Linked DNA regions of Homo sapiens: region 1 is linked to region 2. The links come from fine-mapping of genetic effects on gene expression. Tissue or cell type: whole blood. Region 2 holds a variant in brackets; the other region holds the start of a gene. All regions are shown on one strand. Distances are from middle to middle.

Region 1 (2,623 bases), 100 kb after region 2:
CATCTCTTACAGGGAAGGGGCCCCCTTCGTTCTGTCCTCCCTACCCCGTTCCTATACTTAACGATTGGCTCTAATTTAATTAGAACCCTCTGGTGGTTCTGTAATGGGAGGCAGAGGCTGTCAAGAAATCACCTTCACTATTCACTACAAGCTGAAATTTGGAGAGCGCGCAGATCCGGGGGTGTCCTCCAGAGAAAGCCCGTCTCTCCTGCTCCCTGTCTCCCCCTGAGAACCTGCTCCAGCGCAGCCTCCCCTTCTCTGCCCCAAAAGTGGGGGTGGACCCGGTGGGAAACAGGCAGGGGACAGATGGAGGGGCGAGAGGGCGGGTGTCCCAACACGCACAGATGAGCAAATACCCAGATTGAAACGTAAGCTGAATGTAATTACTTGGTTAATTAAATATTGACTTTTAACTCAAAAAGTGATTAAAACAAGCTGCAGGAAGACTTTCCAGAAAGGGGGGCAGGGAATGAATCAAAGCTTTCAAGGGGGAGGAGGAGGAGGAGAGGGTCGTCACAGGCAGGTCTGGCTTGCTCTTCCTACTGTGTGCTGGGCCTACTGCGTGCAGGTGGGGGAGTTGCGGACCGAGGCCAGTGTGCAAACTAGGATTGCAGGCTTCCCTTTCCATCTTCCACCCCGAGACGGCATCTCTCTACCCTGCTGCCCTCCCAGTGAACCGGCAGCTTCTGGCGCGCAGGAGCCAGATCCTGTTCAGCCGCGTTTCCCTGGAACAGAACGCGGTGCCCGGCACGAGGGGGTGCTCCAGAAATGCTTGTAGAACGAATGAACGAACTACTATAAGGAATGTTTGGAAAAGTGCACTCCTAGAATTCACCGCTAGACTTCTGAAACCCCGAGGAGCCGGGGAGGGGAGCATCCCTCCGCCAGGCGATGGAAACTCGTTCTGCCCTGGCCTGGGAGGAAGTCTGCCTTTTCGATCCTGTTTGTCCTTTCGGTGTCTGCGAGTTTCCAACCACTCTGAAGATCCGGCCCACTGCTTCCCCGAGTCCTGCCCGGACAAGCCCCACGTGGGCTGGCATCTACCGGTCCCTTGGGTCTAAACCCTAAGGGTCAACAAGGCCATGCCCCTGCGGATGGCCGGCCCAGGCGCGCTCCCCTACCCGGGGCCGCCTGTGCTCGGTGTGCCGTGTCCGCGGGTCAGGGGCGCGGCGGGAAGTCCTCGCCCGCCCGCCAGCCAGCGGGGTCAAACAGGTCATCCCTCTGCGGACGGCCGGCGCCGGAGCCTCCCTCCCGCCCGCCCGGACCCACCTCCGCAAGCAGCGCTGGGGCTGGAGCCGGGCGGTCCGGACCAGCCCCGGCTCACCTGGGCGGCGCTCGCGGCCGGGCTCACGCCGGGGAAGGCTCCGGCCGCCGCGAGCCCCCGCCCGAGCCCCGCGTCCCCCAGCCACCCACCTGCCCCCCACGCCCCACTCACCAGCGCGCACGGCCCCGGCAACCTCACCCGGAGCGGGGCGCCGCCGCCGCCTCTGCCGCAGCCCGGCCGGGCCGCTGGGCGCAGGGGACTCCGCGCCGCCGCTGCCGCTGCCGCCGCCGCCGCCGCCGCTGCCGCTGCTGCATCCCCCGGCGAGCGCTGCTGCTCCTCCTCCTGCCTCCTCCCCGCCCCCCAACGCCGCCGCCACCGCCCCCGGCCCCCTCCCCGCGCGCCGCCCCAGCCAAAGTCCGGCTCCGCACCCCGCCCGGACCGCTCTTAAATCGCCCCAGCCCGGCCGGCCACGCTGCCCCAGCCAGCCCCTTGGCACGGCGCTACCGCCCCCCGCTCGCCTGCCCGCCGGCCTCCACGCAGGGGAGGCGGGCGCGCTCCGGGGCGGGGAGCGTCGGGCCGGGAGCCGCGGACGGCTGGGGCCCGGGGCGCGGGGGGCCCAGCCGCGGTGCCCTCCTCGAGCCCTCCGCGCGCTAGCGCTTTTACCTCCGGCCTGGGGGACGCGCGGCCCGCGACCCGGCCCTGCCTGTCCCCGGCGCACGGCCCCGGCCCCGGCCCCGAAGTCCAGCTCCGGACGGGGCAGTGAACGCAGAGCTGGGGTCCCGGCGGCTCTCGACCTCCCGATGCCTCCGGACTCGGCTGGCCGCGCTCCCGGCGCCGAGCGCGCACCCTCGCCGGGACACACAGACGCACACTCACTCGACACACTCTCGCTCCTGCTCGCCCTCGGCGGAGAGTTGAAACAGATGTGGGATTCGCCCAGGAGCTGGAAACGAGGGAGGGAAGCGAGCCAGAGCCTTGTGTGCACGTGTGTGTGCGTAACACACAAACCAGGGGGCATCGCTAATAAATCAAATATCGTGATAAATTCAGGAGGGCCATCGATCAGGTCCACTTGGCTGGAAACGACGTGAATCTGCCTCTTTTCCGCTTTCTTCTTCTCCTCTCTCGGAGCTGGAGGGAGCCAAATGTTCCGCGGGGAGTGCGACAGCCCCGGCCGGGCGCTCCCCTCGTAATGACACGTTAATAAATGTTTTCTTTTATCTGCTTTCACAGGACTCGCCCCGGTCTGCAAACACTCGACTGCCTTTGCCGAAAGCCTCGCGCTCGCCTCCAGCCACACACATTTGCCATTGGAGAGGCCGGCGCCGGCCGCGACCCGCAGCTCAATCGCAGGGCAAA
Region 2 (2,754 bases):
TAAGGGCTGTGAGGTTTCTCTTTGGGGTAAGAAAAATGTCCTAACATGGATGTGGTGATGGTTATACAACTCTGGGCATATTAAAACCACAGAATTGCACACTTTAATTGGGGGAATTGTATGGTATGTGAATTACATCCCAATAAATGTGTTCAAAAATGTAAATAGCAGGAAAAAATATAACTAGCATATATGGTTACCGTATTGGGCAACACAGATCTAGAAAATGTTTCATGAAGGAAGAGGCTTTTGTCTGGATTGCTCCAAGCTGTTCCCCAGGTCTAGCACATGGGGCCTCTTCATTCTGCCTTTGATTTCTATTCCTCCAGGAAAACCCTGAAGGGCCAGGAGGTCTCGGCCCTGGCCTGGCTGGGGGTTCGGAGCCACGCCCACCAAGAGGCATGCAGCGGGCGCCTACCGTCTCCATGGAGTCGTCCACCGACATGAGGGTCTGCAAGCGCTTCCGCTGGAGCATGTTGGTGAATTCCATGTGGATGGGCTTCATGGGCCCCGTGTAGCGCATGATCCAGTGTTTGTCCGGGTTGGGCGCGTAGTTGTAGCTCGGCGTGCTGGTGGGCAAGGACATACACATCGGTCAAACCCAGGGACAGCCTGGACCCTGCCTGGCCCCCGCCAGACCCGCCCGGATGAGCAGCCACCCTGTGCTGTGTCTGCAGCCCAGGGCCAGGTGTGATCTCCTGGTGGGAAAGGGGACATTGGCATGTCAGGGGCTTATCCAAACCCTGTTTCAGCGTTTCTCCACGTGTGAAGTGTGCACTTGGGAAGCTCCTAAGAGGCACAGCATTCAGTGACCTTGAGTGACAAAGTGAGACAGCCAGTCCCTTGTCGGCTCTCTCAGGGCAAAGTCTGTTTGGTGCTAGTGTTTCTTTAACACCTCTCTAGACTTTGCTCGTCTTCCTTTTGAAAAAAGGGAAGAAAGTCAAGTTCAGAGCCTTCATCGGGAACCAGTACCCAACTCAAATTCCATAGCATTGCTTTGTGTGCCTTGTACCTATTATTGGTAGATGGCAGTTACCTTTGGTGAATGGCAGGTGGCAGTTATTGTGGTTAAGGTAGGACCACGGAATATCCTTTTGCAATAGATTTTAGTTTGAAATAATAGAAATGGATTTAAAAATGAAATAAGTCATAGTTTTATGTGTAAGGCCAGAATTGTGAGGAAGGCACCTGAATGTGCACATTTGGGACATGCCACA[T/C]TCTTTTTTATTTTTTGAGACAGTCTCGCTCTGTCGCTCAGGCTGGAGTGCAGGGGCGCAATCTCAGCTCACTGCAACCTCCACCTCCCAGTATGAGTGATTCTCCCGCCTCAGCCTCCCAAGTAGCTGGGACTACAGGCGCGTGCCACCACACCTGGCTAATTTTTTTGTATTTTTAGTAGAAATGGGGTTTCACCATGTTAGCCAGGATGGTCTCGATCTCCTGACCTCGTCATCTGCCCACCTTGGCCTCCCAAAGTGTTGGGATTACAGGCATGAGCCACTGCACCTGGCCTCTTTGTTTTGAGATGGAGTCTTGCTGTGGTCCAGGCTGGAGTGCAGTGGTGGGATCTCAGCTCACTGCAGCCTTTGCCTCCTGGGTTCAAGTGATTCTCCTGCCTCAGCCTCTTTAGTAGCTGGGACTACGGGCTTGTGTCAACACACCTGGCTAATTCTTGTAGTTTTAGTAGAGATGGGGTTTTGCCATGTTGGCCAGGCTGGTCTTGAACTCCTGACCTCAGGTGATCCACCCACCTTGGCCTCCCAAAGTTTTGGCATTACAAGCATGAGCCACTGCACCTGGCATGCTGCTTAATCGTGCAGCAGGAGTGTGTTGGGCAAAGTTCTGTCTGAGCACCTGTGATGTGAGGGATGGAGGGACCCCAAGCAGGTATCTATGATGATATCATGGCAGTGGTTGACTATACCAGCTGCTGGGGTTCGAGCCCCAGTTCTGTCTTTGGCCAGTTAGTCCCCTCCCAAGGCATCAGTTCCCTCATTTCCTACCCAAGGAGAATACAGACAGTGCCAGTTCCCAGGAAGGTTGTGAGCACTGAGGGAGAGGCTGTAAGGGGAACCCTTCTAACCATGGCCAGTGCGTGATGACTGCTTGGGAGAGGTTATCATTGGTGTGTCCCTTTGTCATTAGTAATCACGGGTGACTCCACGGCAGAAGTCAGGTACACTGGGTCTGTCACTCACTCCGTGAGACAGCGGGCAGGTCCCCAAACTTCTCTGATCCTCTCTATTTCCTGGTTAGTCAATGGGAGATTAAACCAAAACCAGAGGAAACATTGTGAGCAAACCAAGAGCACCTCCTTGTCACCTCAGTTTATGCCGGGCCCCTGGCTCCGAGCTACTGAAAACCGCAGCATGGGGGAGTCTCCTGGGTGGGGTGCACCATTGACAGGAGGCACTGTTTAAGGCCTCACAAAACGTGGGCTTCCTCGCCCTGGGCCTGATGGTTCTTGAAGGCCAGGTTCCCTGCAAATCTGGCCTCTCTTCCCAGTCAAGGCTGAAGTAAAGGGTGAGTTTCCACTGCTTTTCACAGTGGGTGTTCTGGGGGCAAGGAGCTCCCGCGAAGAAGAGGAGGAAAAACAAGCCTGGTCAGAGGGGCACAGACATGTCTCCCTCTGGCCTGGTACGTCGGGACTTCAGCAGCGTCTCAGATATCACAATCGTCCGGGGCAGAAATTGTGACGCTGCCGCTGGGGTAGCTTGGCAGCTGTGGACACCGTTGCTATGTAAGGCGGGAGGT

What was found. PIP is the estimated chance that this variant, and not a neighbour inherited with it, causes the effect.
Region 1: SULF2 starts here. The variant in region 2 is fine-mapped to the expression of SULF2 in whole blood (INTERVAL, PIP above 0.99).

Annotation. Positions count from the first base shown.
Region 1 is chr20:47,783,908-47,786,530 of GRCh38, forward strand. It overlaps SULF2 (sulfatase 2), which reads right to left and starts at 1,574. Exons shown (of 21, transcript NM_001387048.1): 1 at 1,436-1,574. It overlaps LOC124904920 (a long non-coding RNA gene), which reads left to right and starts at 1,847. Exons shown (of 2, transcript XR_007067618.1): 1 at 1,847-2,255; 2 at 2,498-2,623.
Region 2 is chr20:47,684,013-47,686,766 of GRCh38, forward strand. It overlaps SULF2 (sulfatase 2), which reads right to left. Exons shown (of 21, transcript NM_001387048.1): 6 at 419-569. Among named protein-coding and RNA genes, the nearest start is that of SULF2, 100 kb to the right of the region's middle. The variant T/C (reference allele first, on the strand shown) is at 1,218.